4 separate regions of the Homo sapiens genome follow, and regions 1, 3 and 4 are each reported to be linked to region 2. Evidence: microRNA targets listed by miRTarBase, many of them from high-throughput screens and not tested one by one. Region 2 holds a microRNA gene; each other region holds the end of a gene's coding sequence.
Evidence for each region. Region 2 holds the annotated microRNA hsa-miR-5001-5p (AGGGCUGGACUCAGCGGCGGAGCU, at 1,034-1,057, shown strand). A microRNA usually pairs through its seed, bases 2 to 8, with sites in the 3' UTR of a target mRNA and lowers its output. Matches are read on the target gene's strand: a 7mer-m8 pairs with bases 2 to 8, a 7mer-A1 pairs with bases 2 to 7 and ends in A, and an 8mer does both.

Region 1 (3,697 bases), not on the chromosome of region 2:
CCTGCTTGGTGAGACCGTGGGAGGGGACAAAGAGGAGGCCCAGATGATCAACCGCTTCTGCTTCCAAGTCACACGGCTGCTGCTGGCACACGGGGCCGACCCCAGCGAGTGCCCAGCCCACGAGTCCCTCACCCACATCTGCCTGAAGAGCTTTAAACTGCACTTCCCTCTCCTGCGCTTCCTCCTGGAGTCCGGAGCCGCCTACAACTGCTCCCTGCACGGTGCGTCCTGCTGGTCTGGCTTTCACATCATCTTTGAGAGGCTCTGTTCCCACCCAGGCTGCACGGAAGACGAGAGCCATGCGGACCTCCTGCGCAAAGCTGAGACTGTCCTGGATCTCATGGTGACCAACTCTCAGAAACTCCAGCTGCCCGAAAACTTCGATATCCACCCTGTGGGCAGCCTGGCGGAAAAGATCCAGGCCCTCCACTTCTCCTTGAGGCAGCTGGAGAGCTATCCCCCGCCCCTCAAGCACCTGTGCCGTGTGGCCATCCGGCTCTACCTTCAGCCGTGGCCTGTGGATGTGAAGGTCAAAGCCCTGCCTCTGCCCGACAGGCTGAAGTGGTACCTCCTTAGCGAGCACAGTGGCTCCGTGGAAGATGACATCTGATAGGTCTCAGGCTACAGGAACGGGGGACACGGGCAGCTCAGGTCAGCCTGTTGGTAGATGCTGGGACAGCATTAGAAGAGGGTCTTTTTGATCTGGGAGATGAGACGGGATCCTTCATGAGAAAAGCCAGCCAGGTAGAGCCTGAAGCTGTGATCACTCCAGTGGTGAAGGGTGCAGCTCTGGTTCTTCCAGAGAGACTGCCCCCTTCCCTCCAGCGGCACTCCAAGTCCCCCCCATGTTGGAAAGAGGAACAGGGCTTGGATTGATGTTTATACCCTCTGAATTGGAGGGCAGTGCCAGGGCATTTGCAGAAGCTGGGAAGGACCAAGCCTCAGCACCCCAGGGCTGCGGGGCTCTTGTTGGCCGCACGTGGCAGTGCAGCTGGAGAGGAAGCCTGGGGCACGTCCTGTGCGGTGCCACCAAGGCCCCACCCCTGCCCCTTTTCCTTCCAGGTTCTGTTACTCACAGAAGTGTTTCTGGTGGGCTCTGCGGGAGAAGACACTAAGGGCCCCACAGGCTTGTTTCATGGTGTTGCAAGCCAAGCTGGCCCCTGCCTGTTCCTGTAGCTCTGGGGCCAGGTCAGCCGTGGCCCCACCTACCAGAACTGTGCTCTGCTGGCAGCTGTGCTTTTGCCAAACCCAGGGCCTCAGCGACCATGACTTCTGCTAAAAAGCAATCATGAGTGCGTGGCTGGGGACAGACCTCTCTGAAGTGTCTCCTGTTGTGAGGGGCTCACTTTGGAGCCACTGAAGAGCCGACTGTGCCACCCACTTGCGAGCCTCAGTCCCTTCCAAGCTGCACTGGTCATTGGGAATTGTGTAAACACCTCTGGGGATAAGCTGAGGTGACTAAATGATATATTTATATTATAAGATTAAACTGACTTTCTTGGCCTTAACAAGGTCCTTATATAAAATTTCCACCCCGCCCCTCCATAGTTCAGGATAGAGGCTCCCACAGCAGCCGGTAAGGAAGTGGGTGGCAGGTGTGAGGGGATGCTGTGTTTGGGGGGTTGTTTCCAAGTCCCTGCAAAGAAGCACCACTCTAGACTGGCAAGGGCCTCCACAGTGTGGAGGTCCCATTTTATTATTTTTTTTTTTCGAGACACTCTGTCACCCAGGCTGGAGTGCAATGGTGCAATCTCGGCTCACTGCGACCTCTGCCTCCCAGGTTCAAGCAGTTCTCCTGCCTCAGCCTCCTGAGTAGCTGGCATTATAGGTGCCCACCACCATGCCTGGCTGATTTTTGTATTTTTAGTAGAGACGGGGTTTCGCCATGTTGGTCAGGCTGGTCTCAAACTCCTGACCTCAGGTGATTCGCCTGCCTCGGCCTTTCAAAGTGCTGGGATTACAGACATGAGCCACTGTGCCCGGCCCCCATTTTATTTTAGTTTTATTTTGAGACAGAGTCTCGCTCTGTCACCTAGGCTGGAGTGCAGTGGCGCAATCTCACCTCACTGCAAGCTCTGCCTCCCGGGCTCACCCCATTCTCCTGCCTCAGCCTCCTGAGTAGCTGGGACTACAGGCGCCCGCCATCACGCCTGGCTAATTTTTTTTTTTTTTGTATTTTAAGTAGAGACGGGGTTTCACCTGTTAGCCAGGATGGTCTCAATCTCCTGACCTCGTGATCTGCCCGCCTCGGCCTCCCAAAGTGCTGGGATTACAGGCGTGAGCCACCGCGCCCAGCCCCATTTTATTTTTTACTTTAAATGCCTGCCAAGGAGCAGCCTCAAGCCCAGAGAAGACTGAGGCTACGGGGAACTTCCCTTGCTGCAGGCTGTTGTAACACTTTAAGGGCCCCAGGTCTCCACTGCCAAGCAGGACTTGGCACATGAGCACCCACCCCACAGCACCATCAGGCAGCACCCATGGGCTCCACCAGCCCAGCTCTGTCCCTCCCCTAGGTAAAGATCACACTGAAGTCTTCAAGTCCCCAGCAACCAAGTTGGGGGTGGTTTCCTTCCTCTTCAGGCAGCCAGGCCCATGGCTGGAAGGCCGGGCTGGAGGCCCAGGGAATCGGTTACTGATGTGGCCACCCTATTCCCACATGGGGAGCACCAGGAGCCCTGGAGCCCCTTCCACCCAATCCCATCTCGCAGGAGAGCAGGGTCTGGGCTCCTGCCTCACCGCTGGTTCAGCAGCACCCTCCCCGCCGGGTCCCACCTTGCCTTTTGAAGAAGAGCCCGCATAATGAGTGGACGGCAGACAGCTATATTTAGTGGTGCCTCGACACTCACGAACCGCCAGCGTGGCGCCTGGATCTTGCCCAGCTGCCAGCTCCCCCCACCAGGACTGTGGTTCCTCAGTTTCTCCTGCCAGCCCCGGCTCATCTCAGGGCAAAGCTATAGACATGGTAGATCTCATCGGGGAGGTTCTCCTGCCTCTCCTCGGCCAGGAGGCTGAGGCCTGCACTGCAGATGATCCTGCGGACCACGTCAAGGTCCCGGCACACGCTGCTGTCCACGTCGTCCAGAATCACGCCCTCCTGGGCCATGTTGTCTTTGATGACGATGATGCCGTTGGGGCGGAGGCTGCCCTTGCAGCGCCGCAGGAACTCGGCCAGGTGCTGATCGGTGAGGTGGCCTGGGGAGGGCAGAGGCAAGGTTACCAGGGCACCATGCAAGCGGATGTCGGCACTGGATGGGATGTACTTCTCAGCCCCGCTGAGCCCCTCATTTGTGCCCAGCATTTTGTGTGCACACATGGCCTCATTGGCTCTCAGTCCCGAGAGATTTACTAAACCCCAATTCATAGAATAGGAAACTGTGGCTCAGAGGTCATCTACCTAAAGACACATTAAGCCAGAATTTGACTTGACGGGATGGCTTACAAGTCCTGCCTGATACCTACACACCATGATGCCCCACCCCTGCCAGGCTTGGATCGGAGGAGTGAACCTGGGCTAAGAGTTTGGCATTGCAGGAGCTCCCAGAGAGACTGCCTTCCCTACACTAGAAGTCCCCACAAAGGCTTCTGAGACCACAAAATACAAGGCCAGACCTAGAGTGTCCACAGCAGGCCTGTGCTGCCCGCCTCAGGAGGTGGCCGACTGCTGCTAGCGGCCTGCCGCCACGTCAGCAGCCCAGGG
Region 2 (3,000 bases):
GTAACTTTTCTACAGTCAAACAGATGGTAAGTGGTGAATCTGGGACTAGAAATCCAGGTTTTCGGATGAAGAGACAGTCGATTTACTAGACTACTAGAAGAGAGGAAGGAACATATTCTACCTCAAGATACAATCCTTGGAGGGGGATAAGTAAAGATACTTCTGCATTTTCTCTCTGTACCTCCAAACTGTTTGATGCTGAAACTAGAAACCGGAGCGGGCAGGAGAGGGCAACAAGTATACTTAGGTCTTGGCGAGTGTGTTGGAAGACGGGAACGGGAAGGGGAGGAGAAAGAAAGTAGGAAGAGTCTCAGGAAGATAATTCCTAAGCCAGCCTTCCACCGCGTCGAGGGCAGCAACCACATTACCTCATTGCATCCTCCAAACTCTACGACAAAGGGTGTTACCGTCCCCACTCTGCAGATGAGAAAACTGAGGCTCAGAGGGGAGAGGGAGTGTGTGGGGAAAGCTGGATTCAGAGGCAGCGCTGCCAGACTGCGGAAACACCCAAACCGCCGAGGTCCCCACCCCTCCACGTCGCAGGCAATCCGCATCCACCAGGGCGGGGCGTCCGAAAATCTCCCCCTACCGGGCGGCACAGCCACCCCTCCCCCGGGCCCAGCTCTTCGCCCTCGGTTCGGACGGCCCTGGGGTCTCCGGGACTCCGGTATCCATTGCTCCCCAGCCCCCTCCTCCCCGCCAGTCCAGGCCAGGTCCGGCCGCAGCCGGATCCCAGCAGGGAAGCCGGTGCCGCAGGGTTTGCGCCGCCCCAGCCCCAGCGGGGGCGGGCGCGGGGGAACTGTTCGGGGAAGGGGCCCCGGGGGCGGCCACGAGCCACTCACGCGTCGAACTTGTTGTTCATCCTCTCGCCGCCGCTGTCGCCACTGCCTCAGGGAGTGACTTCCGCTCCACCGGGTCCCTCAGCCTTGGGCCCGGGTACTTCCGGTTTTGCGCGGGGCGCAGCGGAACGTCGGCGCGCAGGCCCGGTTTGGAAGCGGCTATCTCGGGACGCCAGCTCAGGGCGGCTGCGCAGAGGGCTGGACTCAGCGGCGGAGCTGGCTGCTGGCCTCAGTTCTGCCTCTGTCCAGGTCCTTGTGACCCGCCCGCTCTCCTAAGGGAGCGTGTCCTGGCCCCCTCCCGCAGCGGCTCGGAAAAAAGGCAGCACCGCGTCGTTGACGGCGCGGGCTCTGGACTCGCTGCTTGGTAAAAACCTTCCTCTTCCTCCAGTGCGGGACGCACTCTCTGGTATCTCTTTTGACCTCCCGGAGGCTTTCCTTTGTCGGTCGCGGCGCCACTGTACTATGGCATACCTCGTTTTATTACGCTTCGCAGATAGGGCATTCTGAAAACAAATGGAGGGTTTGTGGCAGCCCTGAGTCCAGCAATTGTATCAGCGCCATTTTTCCAACAGCATGTGCTCACTTGGTGTCTCTGTGTTACATTTTGGTAATTCTCAAAATATTTAAAACTTTTTCATGATTTCTGTGTCTGTTATGGTGATCTATGATCAGTGATCTTTGATGTTGCTATTGTCATTGTTTTGGGGTGCCACATACAGCGTCTTTTATAAGACGTGGAACTTAATGTTGTGTGTGTTCTGACCGCTCCACCCACAGACCGTTCCCCATCTCTCTCCCTCTTCTTGGGCCTCCCTATTCCCTGAGACACAACAATATTGAGATTAGGCGAATTAATGACTCTGCAATGGCCTCTAAGTGCTCAAGTGAAAGGAAGAGTCGCACATCTCTCACTTTAAATCAAAAACTAGAAATGATTAAACTGAGTGAGGAAGGTATGTCAAAAGCCGAGATAGGCCGAAGGCTAGGCCTCCTGCGGCAAACAGTTAGCCAAGTTGTAAATGCAAAGGAAAAGTTCTTGAAGGAAGTTAAAAGTGCTACTCCAATGAACACACGAATGATAAGAAAGCGAAACAGCCTTATTGCTGATATGGAGAAGGTTTTAGTGGTCTGGATAGAAGATCAGACCAGCCGCAACATTCCCTTAAGCCAAAGCCTAATCCAGAACAAAGCCCTAACTCTCTTCAACTCTATGAAAGCTGAGAGAGGTGTGGAAGCTGCAGAAGAAAAGTTTGAAGCTAGCAGAGGTTGGTTCATGAGGTTTAAGGAAAGAAGCCATTTCCATAACATAAAAGCACAAGGTGAAGCAGCAAGTGCTGATGTAGAAGCTGCAGCAAGTTATCCAGAAGCTTTAGCTAAGATCATTGACGAAGGTGGCTACACTAAACAACAGATTTTCAATGTAGATGAAACAGCCTTCTATTGGAAGAAGATGCCATCTAGAACTTTCATAGCTAGAGAGGAGAAGTCAGTGCCTGGCTTCAAAGCTTCAAAGGACAGGCTGACTCTCTTGTTAGGGGCTAATGCAGCTGGTGACTTTAAGTTGAAGCCAATGCTTATTTACCATTCTGAAAATCCTAGGGCCCTTAAGAATTATACTAAATCTACTCTACCCGTGCTATATAAATGGAACAGCAAAGCCCGGATGACAGCACATCTGTTTACAGCGTGGTTTACTGAATATTTTAAACCCACTGTTGAGACCTACTGCTCAGAAAAGAAGATTCCTTTCAAAATATTACTGCTCATTGACAATGCCCCTAGTCATCCAAGAGCTCTGATGGAGATATACGAGGAGATTAATGTTATTTTCATGCCTGCTAACACAACATCCATTCTGCAGCCCATGGATCAAGGGGTAATTTCGACCTTCAAGTCTTATTATTTGAGAAATACATTTCATAAGGCTCTAGCTGCCATGGATAGTGATGTCTCTGATGGATCTGGGCAAAGCAAATTGAAAACCTTCTGGAAAGGATTCACCATTTTAGATGCCATTAAAAACATTCGTGATTCATGGGAGGAGGTCAAATTGTCAACATTAACAGGAGTTTGGAAGAAGTTGATTCCCACCCTCATTGATGACTATGAGGGGTTCAAGACTTCAGTGGAGGAAGTAAGTGCAGATGTGGTGGAAATAGCA
Region 3 (3,670 bases), not on the chromosome of region 2:
TGAAAGTAGAAGGGCCCAAGGAAGAGTTGGAAGTTGCGGGGGAGAGAGGGTTTGTGCCAGAAACCACCAAGGCCGAGCCAGAAGTCCCTCCACAGGAGGGCGTGCCAGCCCGGCTGCCCGCGGTTGTTATGGACACCGCAGGGCAGGCGGGCGGCCATGCGGCTTCCAGCCCTGAGATCTCCCAGCCGCAGAAGGGCCGGAAGCCCCGGGACCTAGAGCTTCCACTCAGCCCGAGCCTGCTAGGTGGGCCGGGACCCGAACGGACCCCAGGATCGGGAAGTGGCTCCGGCCTCCAGGCTCCGGGGCCGGCGCTGACCCCATCCCTGCTTCCTACGCATACATTGGTGAGTGCCTGCGGAGGGGTGGGGTGTGTGGGCGCCAGCACCAATGGGATTGGCATGTGGCGGGTGACTGACAGGAATCAGAGGAGGGTGAGTGTGGTTGTTCCTGAAGAGGGTGGAGCCTTTGAGTGTGATTGACTGGGCTGATGCTGGCTGGAGGGATGGGGTTTGATTAGTGAAGGGCAGGGCTGGGGACTTTTGTGGGTGGGACCGAGGGTCTTTCTGTGGGACTGTTTCTAGGTTGGGGTGTGGCTTAAGGAACCTGAGCAGGGCTTTTTGGTCTGGGATGTGCATATGGGGTTTCATGGGTGGGACATGAGTTGGAAGTTGACCCTGAGCTGTTGGGATGGTGACTTGAGAGGTTTGAGAGCAGCATTTGGATAGGGTCTTGTGGGTGGTCTTGACCAATGAGGTCTCAGCAACTGAGGGTGGGCTCTCGGGAGTGGGGAGTGGGGGGTGTCTGCAGAGTTTGAGAGATCATAGGCATGGCCTCCATGGTTACCATCTAGGTGTGTGCACTTTGGGGAGTGACCCTGGGAGTGTGAGTGGGAAATCTGTGGTGGGGCCGGGACCAAGTCCCTTCCAGCATCCCACATCTACTTTCTACTCACTTGAGCTCCGACCACCCTCTCCCCACAGACCCCGGTGCTGCTGACACCCAGCTCGCTGCCTCCTAGCATTCACTTCTGGAGCACCCTGAGTCCCATTGCGCCCCGTAGCCCGGCCAAGCTCTCCTTCCAGGTAGGATCCTCTTTCCCCGTTTTGGACAGGGTGAGAGACCCAAGAATGGCCCCCATCTGTGACCTCTCCCTCTTTTTGCCCCCAGTTTCCATCCAGTGGCAGCGCCCAGGTGCACATCCCTTCTATCAGCGTGGATGGCCTCTCGACCCCCGTGGTGCTCTCCCCAGGGCCCCAGAAGCCATGACTACTACCACCACCACCACCACCCCTTCTGGGGTCACTCCATCCATGCTCTCTCCAGCCAGCCATCTCAAGGAGAAACATAGTTCAACTGAAAGACTCATGCTCTGATTGTGGTGGGGTGGGGATCCTTGGGAAGAATTACTCCCAAGAGTAACTCTCATTATCTCCTCCACAGAAAACACACAGCTTCCACAACTTCTCTGTTTTCTGTCAGTCCCCCAGTGGCCGCCCTTACACGTCTCCTACTTCAATGGTAGGGGCGGTTTATTTATTTATTTTTTGAAGGCCACTGGGAGGAGCCTGACCTAACCTTTTAGGGTGGTTAGGACATCTCCCCCACCTCCCCACTTTTTTCCCCAAGACAAGACAATCGAGGTCTGGCTTGAGAACGACCTTTCTTTCTTTATTTCTCAGCCTGCCCTTGGGGAGATGAGGGAGCCCTGTCTGCGTTTTTGGATGTGAGTAGAAGAGTTAGTTTGTTTTGTTTTATTATTCCTGGCCATACTCAGGGGTCCAGGAAGAATTTGTACCATTTAATGGGTTGGGAGTCTTGGCCAAGGAAGAATCACACCCTTGGAATAGAAATTTCCACCTCCCCAACCTTTCTCTCAGACAGCTTATCCTTTTCAACCAACTTTTTGGCCAGGGAGGAATGTCCCTTTTGTTCTTCCCCCTGAGAAGCCATTCCTTTGTCTGCCAACCTCCCTGGGGTCCTGCCTGTTTCCTCCCAATGGAGGGTTTTTTTGGGGGGTGGTCCCCGTCTGGGGGGCCCCTCCAGCCAGTACTCCAGGTCTCCCTGTCTCTCCCCCGCTGCCATTTTGATAGTATAATCTATTTTTAAATGGGGCTTTTCAATAGGGGAGAGGGAGTCATCTCTTCCTATATTTGGTGGGGTGGGTGGGAAGGAAGGGATTTGGGGGGGAATCTTCCTGCCGCCTCCCCCACTCCAAGTGTTTATTTTTGATACCAAACATGAATTTTCAGTTCCCTCCCTCCCAGCCCCCCAATTTCCTGCGGGCGGGTACAAAGGACCCTTTCAATGTCCCTGGAGTTGGGAGGGAGGAATGGGGGACATAAAGCCTGTCCTGTCTCTATTCTAGGCAAGAGAGAGTGGGTTCAAAAGACTCCTGGGCTCACCTGTTAGCGCTGGCCCAGCCCAGGCCTTGGGACCTGGGGGTTGGTGATTTGGGGGACAGTGCTACACTCGTCTCCACTGTTTGTTTTACTTCCCCAAAATGGACCTTTTTTTTTTCTAAAGAGTCCCAGAGAATGGGGAATTGTTCCTGTAAATATATATTTTTCAAAGTGATGCTGGAGGCTGCTGGCACTTTTTCTCTGATGTTGTCAGGACTAGCTGAGCGTGACACGCATGACTGTGTGTGGAGGGTGTGAGGCAGAGGTCGATTGTGAGAGAAACGGTGTGATGGCGTGTGTGAGAAACAATAGTAGGGACTGCATATCGGTAACCATGTGTGTGTCAGAGACGTGGAAAGCTGTGATTGTGTGTGAGAGTGTGCAGAAGTTGTGACCACAGACTTTTGATGGTGTGTCTATGTGGGAAATTGTGGCTGTGTTTCAGAAAATAACTGAGCCTGGATGAATAGTCAAGGTACTGTACAAGAACCTGTGATGGTATGCACAAAATAATGTCTACGAGAAGGGAACGGGGACTGCAGCCCTGTCACTGTTTGATGGCGAGCAAGACAGACTGGGTGACCAAAACCACATGTGAGAGACTACGTGGGCATGAAACTACAGTAGAGGTTGTCAGGGATTGTGGCAAAGATTGTGTAGGTGACAAACCTCACTGTAGGCGACTCAACGTTTGAGAAATAGATGATGTGCAAAACTGTTTACTTGAGGCTGTAGTGTCAGCTAAAGCTGTAAGACTGTATGGGTGCGAACTTGATTGTACGGGAGAGAATGGCTGGGAGACCAAACCAGTGACCGAGACCAAAGATACAAGAAGGTGCAATTGTGTGTACGAAAGCAGGCGTGAGAGACTGCAGCAAAGACTGAGAAAAACGAATGGCTGTGACTGGGAGAGTGTGACAGGCTGTGTGTGTGTGTGTGTACACCTGAAACTAGTTGCAAATCGATTTACCATTACTACCACAGTCTATCCCACAGGTTCAGGGACTGTGAGAAAGTAGGAGAGAAAATGACGGTGAGCCGGACGGAGCCACTGACATGGTGTGAGAGACCACATCACTGGGCATGCAAGGGAGAGGGACAAGGAACTGTTTATGAGAGACTTGGCAGTAGCAGTAACTGGAAGTCAGAAACTGTGGGAGAGGAACTTGACAACTGAGTGATGTCAGAGCACCAGGGGGTCTGTGAAACAGTTCATAAGAAACCATAAATCAGGGGCCATACAAAAGAGCTGAGCAAATGAGACATGCCAA
Region 4 (3,697 bases), not on the chromosome of region 2:
GAGCCAGAGGCCGTAGCGGGCAGGGCTCGAGCACTGGAGTAGAGCAGTCCGACAGGTAGAGAAGTGAGACTGGCTGCGGCACAGGGCGGGTTAGGGCTCCAGGCAGGGCTTGAGCGGGACGAGGGGGCGGGCTCCGAGGCGGGCTAGATGCCTGGGCTGGATGAAGTCCGAGTCTGGGAAGAGAACCGTGTTGTGGCGGGAGGAGGCGGTGATTGGGGTGGTGGGGCTAAGCGCGGGGGCGGGGCTGGAGCGAGGGGGGCGGGGTAGCACCTCCGCCTGTCGGTGGTGGGGCGGAGGCTGGAGGGGGTGGGCCTAGGATGCGGAGGCGGCAGCTCGCGTGGGGGCGTGACCATGCTGGCGGGGGCGGGGCCGGAGGCGGGCGGTTTAGAGAGCGGGGCGGTCTGCGGGGTGGGGGCGGGGCCTGGTGGGGGCGGGGCCTGTGCGGTCTGCGGCGCGGAGCCGAGTGGGCTGCGGGGATGCGGGGGACCAGCTGCGTGGGCGGCGGCGCCGAGAGCCCCGGAGGCGCGGGGCTGAGCGAGGGCCCGCGGGGGCGCTGGCTGCGCTTGGCTCCGGTATGCGCCTACTTCCTCTGCGTCTCGCTAGCTGCCGTGCTGCTCGCCGTGTACTACGGTCTCATCTGGGTACCCACGCGGTCTCCCGCGGCACCCGCCGGCCCACAGCCCAGCGCGCCGTCCCCTCCGTGTGCTGCCCGCCCGGGCGTGCCGCCTGTCCCGGCGCCCGCCGCTGCCTCCCTCTCCTGCCTCCTGGGAGTCCCCGGCGGGCCGCGACCCCAGCTCCAGCTGCCGCTGAGCCGCCGCCGCCGCTACAGCGACCCTGACCGCCGTCCGAGCCGCCAGACACCCAGAGAGACGCCAGAGGCCGCGGAGGGGCGAAGACCCGGGTAACTCTCCCTTCCACCCCAACCCGGATCGCCAGCCCTCGAGAGCTCTGTGCTCCACGCCGAGGATGCACCGTCTCTGGATTGGTCCGGCCTTCTTCCTAATGACATCGCTCAGCGTCTCTGGAGCCGTCATCCCGCGGAATGGGGGCCCAGGGGGTGTCAGCTCGGGGCCTTGCCTCTTGCAGCTACTCTGTGGTCAGGCCGGGTCCTCCACCATCAGGAAGATCCCATCCTGAGCTCTGTCTCCTGCCCCTCCTGCTGTGGGATGCTGAGCACAGAGCCCACAGCCCATCTGCCTCTTCACCTCCCTGAATCCGTGTCCATCTGCAATAAACGACAGCCTCGGCTGCCTCGTGCTGTGTCTGTCCTGTTGTCTGCAGAGATGCCTCCCCTCCCAAGTTTGTGTGGGAAAGACCTTCCTGGGGTGTGGCCTTTGTCTGTTTTGTCCCGGGTGGGCTGTTCCCCTTCCTTAAGGAGCTCTTCTTTTCTTGGAGTAGGGAGAAGCAGCTTAGCAGCAGCAGGGCCTTTGAAGGTCAGACAGTGGGAAGGGCTTCCCAGTTTTTTGTGTGCTTGGAGCAAAGGACAAATGTCTCTGGGGAGAAGCAGAGTGTCTGCCCTCGTGTTACAGCACAGGAGACAAGAGGAGGGGTGGGGTGATATAGGACAATAGCTGGGGTTCTGGGAATTGCTGTTGGTGTAATTATCATGTCAGGGACAGAGGCTGAATCACCCAGGGATCTCAGTTGGCTGCCGAGAGGGAACGATGCTGGCCCACTTCCTGGGGTCAGAGAGATGAGAGTGGATGGCGGCGGCGGTGGTGTTGCTTCTCAGCCTGTCTGGAAATCTCAGAGCCAATGACCAAAGCGCTGTGCTGCCTTGGAAGACTGGTGCAGCCTCTGGCCTGGGGCGCTGCTAGGAAACCAAGGCCGGGAAACTGAGGTCTAGCTTCTGGGCAAGGAGTCCGAGGTGGGGAGGCCATGTTCCATCCTGGAAGACTGAGGCCTGGCTCTGGACAGGGCCTGGGATCTGACATGCAGGAAGCTGGTTCCTGTCCAGCCTCCCCGCTTGAGCTGGAGGCCTTCCCAGGAGAGTGAGGCTGAGCATCTTCTCCCACGCTGTGGCTCCTGGAGATCTGTGGAGGTGGTTAGGAAGGTCAGCTGCTCTGCTCACCTCCCCTTTACCCCACCACCACTCCCCAGAGGGTGGTTGTGAAGGGGAATCTAGGAAGCCAGCACTTCTTTGTAGTCAGCATAGGTGATAGTTAGGGGCACTGACTGGGGCGAGACTACTCGGGTTCAAATTCCAGCTCCTCTCATTACAAACTGTGTGACTTTGGGCAGGTCACTTGACCTCTGTGTTTCTTTTTTTTTTTTTTTGAGATGGAGTCTTGCACTGTTGCCCAGGCTGGAGTGCAGTGGCATGATCTTGCTCACTGCAACCTCCGCCTTCTGGTTCAGGTGAGTCTCCTGCCTCAACCTCCTGAGTAGCTGGGATTACAGGTGCCCACCACCACACCCAGCTAATTTTTTTTTTGTATTTTTATTTTTTATTATTTTTATTTTGAGAGAAGTCTCACTCTTGTCCCCCACGCTTGAGTGCAATGGCTCGATCTCTGCTCACTGCAACCTCCACCTCCCAGGTTCAAACAATTCTCCTGTCTCTGCCTCTCAAGTAGCTGGGATTAAGGCCCCTGCCACCACGCCTGGCTAATTTTTGTATTTTTTAGTAGAGACGCGGTTTCACCATGTTGGCCAGGCTGGTCTCGAACTCCTGACCTCGTGATTTGCCCACTTGGGCCTCCCAAAATTCTGGGATTACAGGCATGAGCCACCACACCCGGCCTCTGTTTCTTTTTTTTTTTTTTCTTTTGAGACGGAGTCTTGCTCTGTCGCTCAGGCTGGAGTGCAGTGGTGCAATGTCGGCTCACTGCAAGCTCCGCCTCCTGGGTTCATGCCATTCTCCTGCTTCAGCCTCCTGAGTAGCTGGGATTACAGGCGCCCGCCACCACGCCTGGCTAATTTTTGTATTTTTAGTAGAGACGAGGTTTCATCATGTTGGTCAGGCTGGTCTCAAATTCCTGACCTAAGGTGATTTGCCCACTTTGGCCTCCCAAAGTGCTGGGATTACAGGCGTGAGCCACTGCACCCAGCCTTATAACTTATTTAAAATTTTTAAGCATTTTTTGTTTGTTTGTTTAATAGAAATGGGGTTTCACACTATGTTAGCCAGGCTGGTCTTGAACTCCTGGGCTTAAGTGATTTTCCTACCTTGGCTTCCCAAAGCCCTGGAATTATAGGCATGAGCCACTGTGCCTGGCCCTGCCTCTGTGGTTCTGTAGAATGAAGATGCTAATGGTACTTCTTCATAGACTTGCTCTGAGGAATAAATAAACTGGTGATCTCAAGCCCTGAGAACGATGTCACATGTTCTCTCTCTCCACCACCTCTGTCCCTCAGGGTTTAAAAGCCCCAGCTGGGATCCTCTGGGGATAGCAAGTCAGTCCAAAGCCCTGGCCACCAGCAAATGGTGAGTTTGAGGGAGGGGCCTCTCCATTTCGGTTCCCACTGGCCCCCCTCTCTTTGGTTTTCATCTCTCTTCTCCCAGCCCCATTTTTTCCTACTCTTTCGTTTCCTTGTTGCTGTGTGTCCTGGCTCTTTTCTCTTTCTGTGTTTGTCTCTCTGCGTCTCAGTCTTTCTGTGTCCTGTTTATCTCTCTGGTGTCTCTTGGTATTGTTTCTCTCTCCCACTCTGTATGTCTCTGACTCATTCTGCTCATTCTGTGTCCTCCCTATTGCTC

Region 1: miRTarBase lists ASB6 as a target of hsa-miR-5001-5p. Seed matches in the 3' UTR shown: 7mer-m8 at 2,292-2,298, 8mer at 2,488-2,495, 7mer-m8 at 2,925-2,931 and 7mer-A1 at 3,688-3,694.
Region 3: miRTarBase lists ELK1 as a target of hsa-miR-5001-5p. Seed matches in the 3' UTR shown: 7mer-m8 at 2,261-2,267 and 8mer at 2,417-2,424.
Region 4: miRTarBase lists INAFM1 as a target of hsa-miR-5001-5p. Seed matches in the 3' UTR shown: 7mer-m8 at 933-939 and 7mer-A1 at 1,186-1,192.

The regions. Positions count from the first base shown.
Region 1 is chr9:129,634,703-129,638,399 of GRCh38, reverse strand. It overlaps ASB6 (ankyrin repeat and SOCS box containing 6), which reads left to right. Exons shown (of 6, transcript NM_017873.4): 6 at 1-3,697. The coding sequence ends at 610. It overlaps NTMT1 (N-terminal Xaa-Pro-Lys N-methyltransferase 1), which reads right to left. Exons shown (of 4, transcript NM_014064.4): 4 at 2,265-3,192. The coding sequence ends at 2,936. Among named protein-coding and RNA genes, the nearest start is that of ASB6, 5.6 kb to the left of the region's middle.
Region 2 is chr2:232,548,587-232,551,586 of GRCh38, reverse strand. It overlaps MIR5001 (microRNA 5001), which reads left to right and starts at 1,014; the gene lies at 1,014-1,113. It overlaps TIGD1 (tigger transposable element derived 1), which reads left to right and starts at 1,030. Exons shown (of 1, transcript NM_145702.4): 1 at 1,030-3,000. The coding sequence starts at 1,705. It overlaps EIF4E2 (eukaryotic translation initiation factor 4E family member 2), which reads right to left and starts at 898. Exons shown (of 7, transcript NM_004846.4): 1 at 843-898. The coding sequence starts at 862. RefSeq lists a silencer at 518-887.
Region 3 is chrX:47,634,425-47,638,094 of GRCh38, reverse strand. It overlaps ELK1 (ETS transcription factor ELK1), which reads left to right. Exons shown (of 7, transcript NM_001114123.3): 5 at 1-344; 6 at 981-1,082; 7 at 1,168-2,574. The coding sequence ends at 1,266. Among named protein-coding and RNA genes, the nearest start is that of CFP, 6.3 kb to the right of the region's middle.
Region 4 is chr19:47,274,444-47,278,140 of GRCh38, forward strand. It overlaps INAFM1 (InaF motif containing 1), which reads left to right and starts at 442. Exons shown (of 1, transcript NM_178511.6): 1 at 442-1,280. The coding sequence starts at 477. The coding sequence ends at 905. It also overlaps a transcript of CCDC9 not described here. RefSeq lists silencers at 1-3, 364-813.